2 separate regions of the Homo sapiens genome follow, and region 2 is linked to region 1. The links come from fine-mapping of genetic effects on gene expression. A gene starts in region 1. The other region holds a variant in brackets. All regions are shown on one strand. Distances are from middle to middle.

Region 1 (9,546 bases):
TTTAACACCTGAAAAACTTTTGGTTAATACCACATAATAGCATAAGGTACCCATAAGCACAGTTGAGTTCATATGCTATTACCTCATTTAAACTTCATGTGGTATATATCCTTTCAGAGGGCTGAAGAATCACTTTAAATTAAATCAATTTCCACACATAGATAAGAACACTTGTCTTAGGATATACTTATGATAAAATGCTTTGGGATACTGTTAACAATGATACAGATTTTAAAATACATTTTTTTTTTTTTTTTTTTACTTCTTACATTATTTTCCAAGTAGAATAATGTGTTACTTTCACTGCTGTGGTATTTTATTTACCATAAAATTGGAACTCTCTCCAGAGTCAAGAAATTAGTCATTAAAAAAAAAAACTTATCAGAACAGTTACTTTCAGATATCATTTGATGTCAATGATATTTTTAAAATTTTGACAACCATAACCACCAATATTTCAACAATTACTGCTTTACTATAACATAGCATAGCTTACCTGGCTCATGAATCATGTAATGAACCCAGCCTAGACTCTGTTGGACACCAAGTCTCCTCCACTCCTCTTCAGACATCAGATGAGTTTTAGGTACTTGTTTGGAAAGTTCTCTGGGTAACATAACATGCCTGTTACAAGATACAGCCAAGTGTTAGTCCAGTGCCTTTTCTACAACTGTCGCTTTATACATGTACCTTAAGGAACTCTGTTGCTTTAATATTGAGAACTGCAATCTACTACCTTTAATTCTGATATGATGGCCTATGTTCAAATTAGGGAGCTAAGAGTGCACAATCCAAAAGCAGAAAGCATTTTCCATAGGATTAATCTTTTTCTCTTATCACAGAATGCTTACCAGTTGCCTTAATCTTCTTCAGGAAGAGAACCCCAAAATATAAGTTGAACATATGGTTACCAGCCTCCAAATCATAAGCCAACAAGATATAAGAAAATGTGTAACTTATTATGAAAAGTGTTCTCAAAGGGAAAGAACATGCTGAACTCTTTTTCTCCTTCTTGTTGAATGCACATTAATATGATCAGGGAGCCAGAGCAGGAATCTAGGACCATAGAAGCAACTGTAAATTGAGAACGGTAAAGCAACAAGAGGTAAGGACCCAGCCTAGTCCTTGACTGTAAAGCTGTTATCCCTGCCCCAGATTATTAGACTTTTATGTAACGAAAAAATCTAAGTTACAGTTAATTTGGGTTTCCTCTTACTCAACACTAGCTTTGTAGTAGCTACTAGTCCTTGTATGCTCCAGAAGTTGCTTTATACTTCAAGTACTTTGTTCAAAATTAAAAACAGAAAACCACTAACTGTACATACACATTGTGTGCAACCTCACCGTTTTCCAGTTAATTTACTGACCTATATCCAAAACTTACATTGTTCAGTTTCTTAGGCAAGCATGGAATAACCTTCAAAGTTAAACCATCAATATGTATAATTGTAGCCTTACGAGATTCTCAAAAACAAATCTGTATCATTAACAGTATCCCAAAGCATTCTATCAAAGATTTGCCTAACAAATCTCTTTCCCCAAATTGAGTAAGAATTTTTACTCAATTACCATAAAAAGGACTTTATGAAAGTCACAATTCTCAGCTCCATGTTTACCACCTGCAGTAGTAGCAACAGTTTTATACTGAACCATCCATAACCACCAACCCAAATTTTTAACCAGTATAAGATATCTGTCTGTGAGTCAGCTGGCTGGGGATGAATGAGGTGCAATCTGGTCACTTTCTGAGACACAGTAAACTGAATCCCTAACCCGCTATAAGCACCCAGCTGTCATCAACTTAAATTTTAGTCTGTGGTTAAGTACCAATTTATTTGCAGGGCAAAGTGAGCCTCAGAAAAATTCTACTGTGTTGTTAGATTGCCTTAAGGCCACCAAGTCATAGCTTACTACCATAATTTGTAGAGTTTTCATCAATTCCAGTGAACTATATAGTGATTCTTTGTAATTCTTACCAGTTATCACCCACATTCTTGAAATGCTGCTTTAACATCTAACTTCAAATAATCTGTTATCTTATTTCTACGTTCTATCTTGTTGATTATTCTCAAAGAGAAATGTAGTGCTTTTGTACCTTTTCTATCAAACTTACAGAGTACATAAATCTACCAACAAGTTATTTAGATAGAAGTTACCACCCTTCTCCATAAACACGGAAACAGGCTCTCCTCCATCAGGGTTTCTTTATAAAGGAAAAATGTTTAAGTAGCATCAACCCCATATGAGGATTCTACCTGTATTTTGCCACACAGAGATTTCAAACTAACTACATGTAAGGAAAATTATTTCCAAAATCTAACGTTTATTTCAGTTGAAATGCAAAATAGTGCAAGTATTACTAATTTGTAAGGCTGCCCAGAAAAATTAACAGTTTTTCTCTTGTGAAAACAGACTTCCATGATGTGGGGGTGGGGGCACCCACTGTTATGCCCTTAGAAACATTAAGACCCTCACGTAAAAGGACTAGGAAATTAAGTTTGTAATTAAGAAAAATCAAAGAAAGATAGAGATAACTGCACACTGGGAAAAATAAATACTAGCCTTTGAAATTTACATTGCATGCTGCACCATTACATATTAATACAAACCACCCTAGACTCATGCCTTAGTGCTATATTATTACTAGTTTCCCCTTTAAAATTATGTGTGGAAATTACTATCCTGTTTCATAAAGGTTACTGGCTTGGCCAATTAATACCAGCTCTAATTTTTATTGGATTAAAATACATCACTTCAGATATGTAAACTTTCTTCTATACATTACCACACACAAATCATTTGAGTATATTAAAACTAAAAAATCGACCTACTGCCATCAGAAAGAAGTCTGAGAAATAGCTTCATTTATTTTCAATATTATACCCTAAAAGAAACTTGTACCGACCCTTAAATCCTTATCCTAAACACTTGGCACCAGATGTGTTTCAGAATAATTTTCTAGGTTTTAGTAAGATTATTACGGTTTACATTGTGTTCATTATTGGATATCCTCAATAGGGCTCTTGATTAACATCGCATAATTGAACACTGCCAGCATATTACACGAGTATAGTTTATTATTACTATAAGGTTAACACAATCTACTTGAAATTTACCTACAGCCAGAAAAACATGCTATTTTTCTAGCTAGGAATACAAAAGGGTGCAATTACTACTACCCATAGAAATATTCAGTAGTCCTCATGTGAAAACAGACTTCCATGCTACTAGGGAGGGGGAGAAAAAGAGAAACCACCCACTGTTTTGTTCTTTCTTCCTTAAATAGCATTCGGAGAAATCTAACCTACAAAGGCAGCAGACAGAAAACAAGGTCACAATTTGGCCAACGATGGCATGGGCTTTATCTCCCCTAAATCTTGGTAGTATCCCAGAACGCAGCGTTCTAGTCGCTACCTAGTTAAGAAAAAGGGGTTGACTGTTTTCTGAAGCCACGCCCTAAATGAAGTGTCCCGCATACAGTAAGGACAACAAATTTTAAATGTCCCTACTCGCTTTCCCCCAATCTACTTTAATTGGGGGGAAGGGGACAGGGACATTTAAAATTTGTCTAATTTTACTGATCGATTACAGCCACCATGTTCTAGTACGGTGCTTCAGGACTCAAACGCAAAAGTTTCTCAAAGCCCAAAATTTGGCCAGTGTATACTAGCAGAAAATGATGCCCAAAGTCCACTCAAGTTCTTAATCGGCCTTAAAATGAAACTCCTTTAATAATACCCTCAATTGTATGACTGCGGCTAACCTATAATGGCCCAAATCACCATACCCAGTAAACATTTTCGAATCCCCATCAAGCTCATTTTTCGGGGGGTCGCCTCCAAAGCTTATTCTTATACCACTCACTTCAAAAACAAGAAAAAGAAAAGTGTTCCTCTGTGTTAACAGATGAAAATGACCATTTGACCATTCTAAACCACAAACTAGTAAAAGCTGCATCACCCCGTCAGCGACAGGGAAAGTGTGTCACGGTTGCTAAAGGAAAAAGGACGGCACCAGGTGGGTTTTCCTGGACTGGTTCAAAGAACTGGAACTGAGACCAGCTACTGAACGGCCTAATTACTTCGGCCACGGCCGAGAAAAAAGTGACGGGATGGTCACTCCGCGTCGCCGAGGACCCCATGACCCCCAAGTTGCGCCGGTTCCTACCCAGGTACTAAATGCGGCCCGGTGGGCACTCTTCCCTCACCCTCCGCGCACACCGAACAAAGGCCCAACCGGCCCGGCGCGGCCAGGCACCCAACCATGTCCGACTGCGCGGGGCGCCAGGTGGCCGCGACCCCAAACCCCGGCCCTCGCCCTCCGGCCCCGGGCTCCGCCCCCCAGGCCCCGGCCCCCACCCCCGACCCTACTATGCCTGGGTCGCCCCGCCCGCGGGGGCCCCGGCTGAGGGAGCCGGCTCGGGGTCTAAGAAAGGCGCCCACCGGTACTCGTAGTGTTCGTCGAAGTACTTGTCCGAGTAGTAGATCTGCTTGTGGGCCATCCTGCTGGCGCGCTGCAGAAAATGAAACGAGAGCGCGAAGAGCGGGCGCAGCAGACAAAACCACGTCCAGCCCAGGCAACAACTCGCCGGAGACTAACGACCGCAGTCCCAACGATCCGGATTTGAATCCGACAGCCCGCCGCCGATTGGACAGCAGCGCCGACCAATCACCTTCTGCGGAAGTCGGCCGGCTGCCAGCCTATCGTCGCCGCCGCCTCGCAAAGTCCGCTTCCTGGGTCAGCCAATCAGAGATCTGTTGCGAGGTTGCCCGAGGGAAGATAGGTACGTCACGGGGGTGGCAGGGCCCTTAACGGGCAGGGGCGTGGCCAGAGGAGGGCGAAGTCGGGACGTTAAGGGCCGCAGAGCGCGTGCGCAGGAACGTGGAAAGTTCCAGGACACGGAACCGTTGGGACGGAGGACCTGAAGGTGGAGTGAGGTATCACGGGGTTTGGTGATGACGTAGTCGGTCGAGGCCGGAAGCGTGGGCCACAGGGCTTTGAGCGGAAGCTGTCGACCTTGCACGGTGATGGCGCTCCTCGTGATCCCTTGTATCCCCTCAGGCTCGAGCCAGGAGCCTAGGTCCACTTTGAAAAGTAGTAAAAGGCAGAAAGGTTCTGCGGTGTGAGGGGGAGGGCGGCTTCGTGGTCGGCTGGGTCGGGGGAGCGCCGGGCGGCCGCGGCGTGGCTGTGTCCGGGGCTGCCCTGCGCAGCCGGCCGTTTCGCCGCCTGGTGCACTTGCTGAGCTTCCGGCCTGGCCCGTCGCGGGGCTCCTGGCGCCCCCCTAGACGACTGTGTGGAGAATGGAGCCTGCGGAGCCACGCGTAGAGAGAGGCCCGGAGCCGGCGCGGTGGCGGCGGGCGCCAGTGGTCCCAGCCACTCGGGAGGCCGAGGTGGAGTGTCGCTTGAGCCCAGGAGTTCCAGACAGGCCTGAGCAACAGAGCCAGACCCCGTCTCCACAAAGAAAGAAACAAATGGGCCAGAGACCCAGAATGCTTTCTGTAGCCTAACCTAATGTTCAAAACCAGGGCAGACCCAAGCCATGGAAAGCTTGAGGGAATAAAATAATATTCTGCTGCGGCCAAGAATAACAATGCTAATTCCTGGATAAGGGGATTTAAAATGATGTTTAACAACTTCTGGTCTTTTAATATTGACCCAAGTTTAAAAACATGTTCATATAAAAAAGTTACTGGAAGAAATTTATAAATGTAACTGGTGGTTATTTTTAGATGACAGAATTAAAAGTGATCTTTTTGGTATTTTTTCCACAACGAGCACGTGTCATTTTTATGTTAATTTCATTTTATGCGAAATGCTCCAGCGCAGTACAGGCTAGTGGGTTCAGGGTGGCTGTGACTAAGTAATGTAGATGGGGTACCTTAGACAAAGTTTCCAGACTAGAGGCTGGAAGTAAGAGGTCCGGGTGCCCTTTTCCACACTGCAGACCACGGACTTTTCCGGTTTCTGAACAAGTGAGACAGGCCGGCTAAGGACATTTATAATCTCCATGGGTGAGGGCCCCACCCTCATGACCATCTAATCTTGATTACCTCCCGAAGGCCCCACCTCCTAACTTCCTAATACAATCACTTCTTGGGGGAAGAGGGTGTTTGGAATTCCACCCCCCGCCCTTTTTTTTTTTTGGAGACAGTCTCACTCTGCTGCTCAGGCTGGAGTGCAGTGGTGTGATCTTGGCTCACTGCGACCTCCCCCTCCCAGGTTCAAGCCATTCTGCCTCAGCCTCCAGAGCAGCTGGGATTACAGGCCCAGCTAGTTTTTGTATTTTTAGTAGAAACGGGTTTTCATCATTTTGGCCAGGCTGGTCTCGAACTCCTGACCTCAAGTGAACTGCCCGCCTTGGCCTCGCAAAGTGCTGGGATCGTCAGAGGCAAGTGAACCAGAGCACCTTCATCTTAAACAGGAGCTGGGTAAGATGAGCCTAAAACCTACTGGGCTGCATTCCCAGACAGTTAAGGCATTCTAAGTCACAGGATGAAATGGGAGGTCAGCACAAAATACAGGTCATAAAGACCTTGTTGATGAAACAGGTTGCAGCAAAGGAGCCAGCCAAAACCCACCAAAACCAAAATGGCGAAGAGAGTGACTTTGGTCCTCACTGTTACACTCCCACCAGTGCCATGACAGTTTAGAAATGCCATGGCAACATCAGGAAGTTACCCTACATGGTCTAAAAAGGGGAGGCATGAATAATACACCCCTCGTTTAGCATATAAGCAAAAAATAACTATAAAAATGGGCAACCAGCAGCCCTCGGCTGTTCTGTCTATGGAGTAGCCATCCTTTTATTCCTTTACTTTCTTAATAAACTTACTTTCATTTTGCACAGTGGACTCACCCTGAATTCTTTCTTGCACGAGATCCAAGAATTCTCCCTTGGGATCTGGACTGGACCCCTTTCCTGTAACAGAATTACAGGTATGAGCCACAACACCCGGCCTGGAATTTCCACGCATGATTTGGTGGCTGGGAGCAGACACAAACATTCGTTCATACATGATAGAATCCTTCAGGTCTCAGATTAAGCATTTCATCTTCTGAAAGGCCTTCCTTAATCAACTTCTCTACAGAAAGTTCTTCAATTTCCCCATTATGCCCTTGCCACCGACTCCAGTGGGCTTCCCTCCCACTGTCGCAATTGCATGTTTGCTTAGGTGGTGGTTGTCTCCCTATCTGCGCTATAAAATACTCTCTGTTAGTGAGCCAAGACTGTGCCACTGCACTCCAGCCTGGGCGACAGAGCGAGACTCCGTCTCAAAAAAAAAAAAAACAACTCTGTGAAGCTAGTGTAGAGGCCATGTCTGTCTTGTTCACCACGGAGTGCCTAGCACATAGCAGAGTTCCTTGCACATAAGCACACAATAAGAAGTAAATTTTAGGCACAGTATAATAAGAGTAAATAATTAGGTATAATTACTATGATGGCAAAAATGTGAATAAACTGTTAAGGAAAATGGACAAGGAAATTACTTTCTGGCAGAACCTGGGGGAAAAAAACTTCCTGGGAGATATATTTTTAAATAAATGTATAGATGCTCCTTAATTTACAATGGGATTACATCCTGACTAGTCAAAAAAATTTTAAGTTGAACCATTGTAAGTCAAGGACCATCTGCACTGTGAAAAGTTCAAACACATGGAATAATAGAATCAACTCCCATGTACAGGTTGTGCATCTTTAATCTGAAAATCTGAAATGCTCCAAAAGTCCAAAACGTTGAACAACACTGACATGAGCTCAAAGGATATGCTCATTGGAGCACTTCAGATTTCAGATTTTCCTATTAGAGATACTGAACTGGTTAACAAAATGCCCATATTCCAGATTCCAAAAAACCCTGAAACACTTCTGGTCCCAAGTGTTTTGGGTAAGGGATACTCAACTTGTTCCAGTCATTTAGCTTCAGCAATTACCGTTTGCCAATCATGTTTCATCTGTTCCTCTCTAACTTTTTTTTTCTAGAATATTACTGAAGAGATCTCAGATATGTCAGTTCACTCCTAAATAAAACTTTTCAGTGTATCTCTGTGTTTATGGTGTGCATCTCAGGAAAATTTTTTAAAAAATGCATAACCACATCATACTTACGCTTAGACGTCCTTAATACTCTTTGATAGCTGTTTTAGACTCACATTTCCCTGACTGCCTCACCAAAGCTTTTTATAGTTTGTTTAACCCTGCTTTCAAACTTGGGCCTACATCTTGCATTTTGTTATTGTCTCTCTTTTTTTTTTTTTTTTTGAGATGGAGTTTCACTCTTGTTGCCCAGGCTGGAGTGCAATGGCGCGATATCTGCCCACTGCAGCCTCTGCCTCCTGTGTTCAAGCAATTCTCCTGCCTTAGCTTCCCAAGTAGCTGGGATTACAGGTGCCCTCCACCATGCCCAGCTAATTTTGTATTTTTAGTAGAGATGGGGTTTCTCCATATTGGTCAGGCTGGTCTTGAACTCACGGCCTCAGATGATCCGGCTGCCTCAGCCTCCCGAAGTGCTGGGATTACAGGCGTGAGCCCCCGCACCCGACCACATTTTGTTATTGTCTCTTTTAGTCTTCTTTAAACAACCCCCCAACCTCTACCTACATAGACACCCTCCCCACACACACCCCTGCCACCTTTTTTAACATCTGTTCATCAAACCAGGTCATTTTTGCCTGTGGAACGTTACACATTCTGGATCTGTGTAATTGTTTCCTTGTGGTGCAGTTTCCCTGGTTTTTCTATTTCTTGTATTTGTTACAATCTGGCATTTAGATCTAGGTTAAAACAAAACAAAACCATTTACCAAAAATTCCTAGTAAGTGGCAGACTCATATTTGAGCCCAAACTGTCTGACTCCAGAGTTAGGCCTCTTACCCACTATTCTGTTCTGTCTCTTAGAGTTCCACAGGTAGAAAGCCAGGAGGGCCAAGCACCTTTCCAAAGGAAGGATTGGTAGTTGTAAAGGTGTGAGGAAGTGTGGTACACACAGAAAATGCTGAATAGGTTTGGCTTAGATTGTAAAAGTCATGGAAAGGAAAGTTGTGGGAAGTGAATGTAGGAGGATGAATGTGGTAGAAAAATGGCCCCCAAAGATGTCTGTCTTAGTCAATTTTATGTTGGTATAAAGGACTACCACAGCCTGGGTAATTTATAAAGAAAAGAAATTTATTTCTTACCATTTTGGAGGCTGGGAAGTCAAAGGTAGAGGGGCAACATCTGGTGAAGGCCTTCTACTGCATCATAACATGGTGGAGGGCATCCCATGGAGGGAGGGCAAGGGCCAGCCGGCTCAGGTGTCTCTTCCTCTTCTTATAAAGCCACAGTCCCGTCATGGGAGCCCCACCCTGATGACTTTAATCTTAATTACCTCCCAAAGGCCCCACCTCCAAATACCATAAACATATAAATTTGGGGATTAAGTTTCCAACACGTGAAATTTGGGGGACACATTCAAACCACAGCAATGCTCATATCCTAATCTTTGGTATCTGTGAATGTTACCTTACACAGCAAAAGAGACTTTACAAATGTGATTAAATTAAGGATTT
Region 2 (8,700 bases), 23 kb after region 1:
ATGCCTGATTAATTCTATTTCTGTATGTAAGTAACATAATAAAAATATCCAGCATAAAAATGTGAAGTTAACCCTGGGGATCTGAGAGATTTATATTCATTTAAAAGTACACACTTCTCAAGTTTGAAAATCTCCACAAGAATGTGCAGTACACCTCTTTGACTCTGGTGTGTGACATAGCACCTGGGACAGCATTCAAATTATAGTCTCTGTGGATAGTGTAGGCAGCACACAGCTTGCTGGGCTGTATGCAGAGGTGCTGACAGCATGTGATGGAACCTCACGCAACCAACTTCAAAAGGGAAACATTTCATTTAAAGTCCTAATAATCGCAGATTTATTTGGGTGACAAAGTGAAGTTTTAGATGAATGCAAACATTCTAGGTTGAGGAGCTGACCCCTTGGGATGACTTCATTTAATTAGATTATTTTCCTAATAGTCCACAGCTGAAATATATTGCCCTGTGGGAAGAGGTTCTGATTTGCCGGTGGAAATGAGGAGGTGGTAATTTTTGATGGTGGGACACTTGGAGGCAATGGACAGGCAGAGTAGGATGTGGGCAGGAAGAGGTCCCTAAGTTATGCCCAGAAGAAGTATTAAACTTTTGGACAGCTGAGAAAATGAAGAAGGACAGTGCTGAAAACAAACTTCGTTTAAGAAAAAAATTGCCTTTAACTGTCTTCACTTTCTCTTTATTCAATAGCCTTGTCTCCGCAGAACTTAGAGAGTACTGTTTTCTAATTCATTATTCTTGTGGACTAAAATCAAGGGTCCTTAACCTGTGATCCAAGGATCCCTTAAGGAGTTCATGGATAGAATCCAAGGAATCCATAACTTTGGATGGAAAAACATTTCCTGTAACTGAAGTTTAGCATTTTCTTCAATTGTGAATGTTGGGAACAAAATGCAGTAGTATTAGTTATATTATTACAGCTTTTGCAAAAATCCTGTGATATAATTCTCACTCCTCACTACTTCAGAATTATAGTAGTTACTAGACTTTTTGATAGCTCTTCTTATTTAATCTGTTCAAGAAGAATATATAATACTATGTCACACATATGGTTTAAAAAATCTTTTTTTCTTTTCTTTTGAGATGGAGTCTCATTTGTCACCCAGGCTGGAGAGCAGTGGTGCAATCTTGGCTCACTGCAACCTCTGCCTCCTGGGTTCAAGCGATTTTCCTGCTTCATCCTCCCAAGTAGCTGGGATTACAGGTGCACACCACCACGCCTAGCTAATTTTTTTGTATTTTTAGTAGAGATGGGGTTTTGCCATGTTGCCCAGGCTGGTCTCGAACTCCTGAGCTCAGGCAATCCACCCACCTCAGCCTCCCAAAGTGCTAGGATTACCGGCGTGAGCCACTGTGTCCAGCCTTGGTTTTTAAATATTTTGATAATTTTTGCCATAGACTGAATCATATCCTCCCAAATCCATATGTTGGTGTTCTAAACCCCAATGTGACTGTGTTTGGAGATAGGGCTTTTAAAGGTAATTAAGGTTAAATGAGGTCATAAGAGACCTTAATCCAATAGGATTAGTGGTTTTCTAAGAAAAGGATCTCCTCATTTCCCACCCCTTTTCCTTCTCTGCACTAGAAGCACTAAAGAAAGGCCATGTGAACACACAGCATGAAGGTGGCCTTCTGCAAGCCAGAGGCCTCACCAGGAACTAACTCTGTCAGCACCTTGATCTTAGATTCCCAGCTTCCAGCAGCATGAGAAAATAAATTTCTGTTGTTTAAGCCACCCAGTCTAAAGTATTTTGTTATGGCAGCCCAAGCTGCCATACAAGTGCATTTTCATACAATTGGTTTTGTTTTGAATATGCATTTTATTTTACATATTTAAAATACTGGTCTGAGAAGGGGTTCGTAGGCTTCAACAGACTGCCGGAGGAATGCATGGCATAGAAGTGGACAAGAACCCCTGGGCTCACTGGGTTCTCTGGGTGAGGCTGCTGTTTTCCTTGCTTTCATCTACTTTGGAGGCTGGAAATGAAACCACTCAACTCCCCAGCCTCTCTTGCAGTTAAAAACAGACTTGTGTCTGAGCTCTGGTCAGTGAGGGATAAGAGAGGCCTGATGAGATGTTCCATAGGAGGAATTTCCTTCTGGAATAGAATGAAAAAGTCTTTTGAGCATAGACATTTTTGCCTTTCTTTGCCTGTTTTTCTGCCTGGATCATGATGCAGTGTTTAGATGTGGAACAACAATTTTGCAATTCTGAGAGTTGCATGTCAAACACAGCAGCCTTGACAGCATGCTGGAGCTGATGCATCGGTCTTGGCTGACCACTTCTGGGTGTTCTGTCACATGAGGAAACTCAACACATTTGGCCAAGCCTCTGTAATTCTGTGTCTGTTATTTGAAGCTGAGAGTAATGCTAACTGATAATCCTAGCAAATTAAGACTCATGTCTAGCAGTGTTTCTCAGACTGGGATCCCTGGACACCCAGAGTCCATGAATGTGTTCTTGAGAATTTGAGAGCTCTCAAAGCATTCTTTCAGTGTTGCATGCTCATGTTGATGATAATCCAAAATATATACATAGAAATAAGAAAGAAAAAATAATATATACATATATACACATAGATTTGTCTGTTATAAACCCTAAAGTCTCTTAGTCTTATTTTATTTATTTATTTTTTTTTTGAGACAGAGTCTCGCTCTGTCACCCAGGCTGGAGTGCAATGGCAGGATCTCGGCTCACTGCAGCCTCCACCTCCTGGGCTCAAGTGATTCTCATGCCTCAGCCTCCTGAATAGCTGGGATTACAGGTGCATGCCACCATGCCCAACTAATTTTTTTGTATTTTTGGTAGAAACGGGTTTTCACCATGTTGGCCAGGCTGGTCTCGAACTCCTGATCTCAAGTGATCTACCCAAACAAAAGTGATCTACCCTACCAAAACAAAAGGGCCTTGGCCTCCCAAAATCCTGGGATTATAGGCGTGAGCCATGATGCCTGGCTAGCCTCTTAGTCTTAATAGGTGATATTTGCACTTATGAGACATTTTTATAGACTAAGACTTTAAGTCTGTGTTTTTCAAGTTGGATCTATTGTAGGGATGTGGGCATGCATTTATAGGCATCTTTGAGAAATTATTTTCATCCTAATAGTAGGGTCCCTATTTACTGAGTTGTAGAAAAACTGATTCATAACAAAATACCTGGGAAAAATTCAGTTTGAGTTCCAAACTAACAATTTAGAAATGAACTTCCAGAAAGCAATCCCATTCATCAATCAAGGACAGCTGTGGCAGAGTTAAGAGCATGGGTTTTGAAGTCCACAGATCTGGACCCAAGTGCTGACTTATGAGCACTTACTGGCTTGGTGGCCCTTGACATATTCTGGAAGTTTACGGACCTTCAGCGTCGTCATGTGGGATAATTGTCTTTACTTTACAGAGTTGTTGTAGCAATTAAGTGAAGTGATGAGTATCAAGCGCTTCACAGAGTACAGTACACAACAGGCATACGATAAATGCTGATTACCGTTCTGTTCTTTTGTTCTGTTTTGTTTTGTTTAGTTTTTGAGATGGAGTTTCACTCTTCTTGCCCAGGCTGGAGTGCAATGGTGCAATCTCGGCTCACCGCAACCTCTGCCTCTCAGGTTCAAGCAATTCTCCTGCCTCAGCCTCCCGACTAGCTGGGATTACAGGTATGTGCCACCACGCCCAGCTAATTTTGTATTTTTAGTAGAGATGGGATTTTTCCATGTTGGTAAGGCTGATGTTGAACTCCCAACCTCAGGTGATGCTGCCCTCCTTGGCCTTCCAAAGTGCTGGGATTATAGGCGTGAGCCACTGCGCCCGGCACGATTCCATTTTGATATCAAATACCTAGTGAAGAATCACTCAGATTACAATTGCTTTTTTTTTTTTTTTTTTTTTGAGATGGAGTCTCGCACTGTTGCCTGGGCTGGAGTGCAATGGTGGGATCTCAGCTCACTGCAACCTCCACCTCCCAGGTTCAATCAATTCTCCTGCCTCAGCCTCCCGAGTAACTGGGATTACAGGCACCTGCCACCACGCCCAGCTAATTTTTTGTATTTTTAGTAGACACAGGGTTTCACTATGTTGGCCAGGCTGGTCTCGAACACCTGGCCTCGTGATCCGCCTGCCTCAGCCTCCCAAAGTGCTAGGATTACAGGCATGAGCCACCGCGCTCGGTCTACAATCACGTTTTATTATTGGCTCGTCTAGTCATGGGATAGAGAAGGTAAATAGCAAAATAGAAAGAAAAGGGGGAAAAGGTAGAAGGCAAGGGGAAAACTATTGGTTTTAGATCTTTATCCTGGTCCTGTCAATGATCAGGTAATTGGAAGGATCAAAATTAGGCCAAACTTGGTAATTGGGCCAAAATTGAACCAAAGTTTGTGTCAAGAAGACCTGGGGCAGAGATATGTGACTAAATCATTTGGAATATGCCCAGACCCCAAGAATATTTATGCCCAACTTGAATGCTAACCAGAAGTCCCTTACTGTAGAAGATTGTAAGGTTGCTATTTTTTTGCCCCGACACCAAAATATTGATGTATTTTCCAACACCAATTCTCCAATTCTCTGACACCAACTCGATGTTCAACAATTCAGTTATATTCTGTCACTAATTCCTGCAGCTATCAGCAGGCCCCACAGGTAAAGGATTCAGTCTCACAAGATTGCCCCCCCACCCACTTCAGTTGCCAGCTACAATGGGGTGCTCAGACCATCCACACTTCTGCCTAGCTGACTGCAGATTTAGGGATTCCCATGACTCTTTTCTCAGTTTTGGTAATTTGCTAAAACTGCTCACAAAACTCAGGTAGACATTTTACTTAACATTTCCCAGTTTATTATAAAGGCTACAACTCAGAGACAGACAAATGAAAGCAATGCATAGAGCAGGGTATGT[C/T]GAGTAGTTGGTGGCACAGAACTTCCAGGCCCTCTCTAGGCATACCACCCTCGCGGCACCTCCGTGTGTTCACTGACCCCGAAACTCATTGCATACCATTCAGGAGGCTTTATAACCCATTTCCAGGCCCCTTCCATCCGTGGGAGGCCAGTGGGTGAGGCTAAGAGTTCCCACCCTCTTTAGTCTTTCTAGTGACCAGAGGCTAGTTAGAACCACCCTAAGTCACTGCAGTAACATAAACTCAGGTGTAGTACTAGATATGGTGGAAGATGGCATGTTATGAGTAAAAGCAGAAACTCCCCTCACTCAGGAAATTCCCAGGGTTTTAGGAGCCCTGTGCCAGGAATAGAGTACAAAAATCAAATAGGTTTGTGTATATCACAGAAATATTCCAGGTAAACTGGATGACTGTTTAGTCCATTTGTGCTGCTGGAATACAATACCCGAGACGGGGTAATCCATAAAGAATAGACATTTATTTCTCACAGTTTTGGAGGCTGTCTGATGGGGGCCTGGTCTCCGCTTACAAGATGGCACCTTGAACACTGCATCCTACAGAGGGAGGAACAGTTTTCTTCACATGGCCAAAGAATTGTTGGGGGTGGGGACCAAACTGGCCTTTGTATAATGAACCCACTCCCACAATAATGGTATTAACTCATTCACAAGGGCAGAGTCCTCTTGGCCCAATCACCACATAAAGGGGCTACCTCTTGGCTGGGCGAGGTGGCTCACGCCTGTAATCCCAGCAATTTGGGAGGCCAAGGTGGGCAGATCACGAGGTCAGGAGATTGAGACCATCCTGGCTAACACAGTGAAACCCCGTCTCTGCTAAAAATAGCAAAAAAAAAAAAAAAAAAGCCAGGCGTGGTGGCAGGCACGTGTAGTCCCAGCTACCTGGGAGGCTGAGGCAGGAGAATGGCGTAAACCTGGGAGGCGGAGCTTGCAGTGAGCCGAGATTGCGCCACTGCACTCCAGCCTGGGCGACAGAGCGAGACTCCGTCTCAAAAAAAAAACAAAAAACAAAACAACAACAAGAAAAGGGCCACCTTTTAATACTATTACAATGGCAGTAAGTTTCCAACACATAGGCTTGCAGGGAACACATTCAAACCATTGCAATGACCAAATTATAAGAAGATTCTTCTGCTTTCTTGGACTCAAAAACATGGACATTTATTTATAAATCACACCTGGCCATCACCGAGTCCCCAGTTTGCCAACAAGATAATTCAATCTGTAGCCCCCAACTTGGCATCACATCTCACCTCAGGATGCACTTGTGAGATGTTGTGTTGGGTTGTGCTCCACTGGGGAGCAGGGGGGTGCTCAATCTGAAGGCTCACAAGCAATGCACAACCATGTTTGGTTAGAAACCTCTTGGGAATATTTGTATGGAAAGAAGGTTCTAGATGTGTTTTGGCAAGGCAAGGGTTTTCCCAACTTCAGTCTTCACCCTGTGAGATTCTCGGGCTGCCAGTCCAGGGGTCTTTGTTCCTGGACCACAGGAGGTGATAATGCAAATTAGAATAAGAACAGCTGTTTGGTTTTTTTTGCAGGAAAGTGAATCTTGAGTAGAGACACCCAGAGATGGAAGGCAGATAGAATCACAGCAACCTTAGGTGACAGTATAAGAATTCTCGTTCCTGAGAATTTTGGGTTTCTGTGGCTCTCTCCCCTTGGCTTGATTGTTCAGATTGACCAACAATTTCATGAGTTACTTACTACTGCTCCAGTGAGTTTCTTTTGTGCTCCAGTTAGGCCAAGGTTAATACCTGCACCAAATAACCATAATTGATACTTTTTTCTGTTGTATTGAAGTTAATCATTTATATGTTAGTCTTAACATATAAGGTTGTGTATATCCTGAGGGCAAGATCAGGTCCTGTTCCTTTTTGTCTCTCCAGGGCCTGCACAATGCTTGGCTTGTAGAAGGTACTGAATAGCTCCTAATTGTATTAATGGATACGATTTTTCTTTGTCTGATCTTTGGCAAATTCATTTGTCTATTACTTAAGTGGATATCTCTGTCCCCACCTACACTTTTCCTTCTGGTGCTACTTGGGATCTTAAATAGCCACAGAAAACCAAGTGAGAAGAGTGAGTGTGCTCTGAGGATGGTTTTGAGGGACTCTTATGAGGATTATAGTAAAATAATTTTATGTTATTTATTCTCACTATCCAGATACCTTTTACTCTAAATTTCTGCCAGCATGCTGATTTGTTGAGATTTGCAACACTAGAATTTTCCAGCAGAGCAGAGTATTGCTAGAACTTGTATCTCAAGCTTCTCTAGAACTGGCAACCTCCTTGGAGTGGCTCTTGAAGGCAATGCCCTTTTCCCAGGTAGTGGCAATGGGAAATCACTTTTCTGAGTGTCGTGGACACAGGTGGGAAGCCTTCGATTTCAGCCTAGGGTCATCTCTTCTATTCCAGGAAATGTTGGCTGTTTTCCACTTAAACTTGTTCATGCTTTTCAGGTCCCAGCTGTAGTCTTCAGAGATATTTGAAAATTAGCTGGTCTAAAACATGATTCTGGCAACCAGTGAAATGATAAAGTAGAAACTATTTATAAAAACAATACTTAAATTACGTATTTCAAATATGTAAATTTATTTGCTCTTTTAAATTTTATTTGTCCTTAGTGCTTTTTAATCCAAATCCATTTTAAACTCCACTGTTATATTCCAACTTATGTAGCATTATTCTGTGCTGTAGTTACACATAATAAATTAGTTACTGTCAGTTTACTTCATTATGCTTTAGTGGTTTACTCTTTCTGAGAATTCAATGAAGGTTTACTTTCTAACAATACCTACTAAAATATTACCAAAGTGAAGAGTATCACCAAGGAGTAAGGAATAACAGAGCCACAGGCAGCTCCAAGTCCCGCTTGTAGAGCTCCAGTCTCGGAACGTGGGATTGCCAGACCTGCCAAGTGGCCCCTTCTGCGTCAGAGAAAAGCAGGCTCAAGGAAAAGGCAGACTTGAGGCCTAGCCTCTTAATGTCCATGTGAAAGCAAGAGGCCAGGTGAAGTTTTTGGAGAGGAGTGACTTGAGTACTATTTTATATGAAATGTTTACTCGGGAGACAGGTTTTTTTTCCCACGAGATGAGGTGAGGAAGGCGCTTTTGTATGAACTGAATTTCAAATCCTCAGGGCTCATGGATATTTTTCCATGGAAAAGGAGGTTGAGAAGGGAGTTCCCCATGGGTGCTACCAGGATGAAAATTTGCCTAGATGTCTTTAGCTGGGGAGAGGGAGTCTGAGAGTTAGTTACGCCCTGTGTGTGTGTGTGTGTGTGTGTGTGTGTGTGTGTGTGTGTATGTATGTGATGGAGTCTCACTCTTTGTCCAGGCTGGAGTGCAGCAGCGCAATCTCAGCTCACTGCAACCTCTGCCTCCTGGGTTCAAGTGATTCTCCCGCCTCAGCTTCCCAAGTAGCTGAGATTACAGGTGCCTGCCACAACACCCAGCTAATTTTTGTACTTTTAGTAGAGACAGGGTTTTGCTATATTGGCCAGGCTGGTCTCAAACTCCTGATGTCAAGTGGTCCACCTGCCTTGGCCTCCCAAACTGCTGGTGTGTCCGGAATTGGTGGGTTCTTGGTCTCACTGACTTCAAGAATGAAGCTGTGGACCCTCGTGGTGAGTGTTACAGCTCTTAAGGTGGCACGTCTGGAGTTTGTTCCTTCTGATGTTCGGATGTGTTCGGAGTTTGTTCCTTCTGGTGGGTTCGTGGTCTCGCTGGCTCAGGAGTGAAGCTGCAGACCTTCCAGGTGAGTGTTAACAGCTCTTAAGGCGG

Alleles and levels. Positions count from the first base shown, and alleles are read on the strand shown. Sizes are in standard deviations (SD) of each study's normalised expression.
In carriers of allele C in region 2, the expression in B cells of the gene that starts at base 4,599 in region 1 tends to be higher than with T alone (moderate effect, 0.69 SD a copy in Fairfax 2012).

Evidence for each region.
Region 2: its variant is fine-mapped to the expression of CKS2 in B cells (Fairfax 2012, PIP 0.95).

Annotation. Positions count from the first base shown.
Region 1 is chr9:89,306,248-89,315,793 of GRCh38, reverse strand. CKS2 (CDC28 protein kinase regulatory subunit 2) reads right to left here and starts at 4,599. Exons shown (of 3, transcript NM_001827.3): 1 at 4,443-4,599; 2 at 497-624. The coding sequence starts at 4,501. MIR3153 (microRNA 3153) reads right to left here and starts at 3,569; the gene lies at 3,488-3,569. LOC105376136 (a long non-coding RNA gene) reads left to right here and starts at 4,992. Exons shown (of 3, transcript XR_930101.4): 1 at 4,992-6,428; 2 at 6,848-6,936. RefSeq lists enhancers at 4,044-4,093, 4,764-5,053 and a silencer at 5,064-5,293.
Region 2 is chr9:89,283,449-89,292,148 of GRCh38, reverse strand. It overlaps LOC105376136 (a long non-coding RNA gene), which reads left to right. Exons shown (of 3, transcript XR_930101.4): 3 at 3,532-8,700. Among named protein-coding and RNA genes, the nearest start is that of CKS2, 23 kb to the left of the region's middle. The variant C/T (reference allele first, on the strand shown) is at 4,898.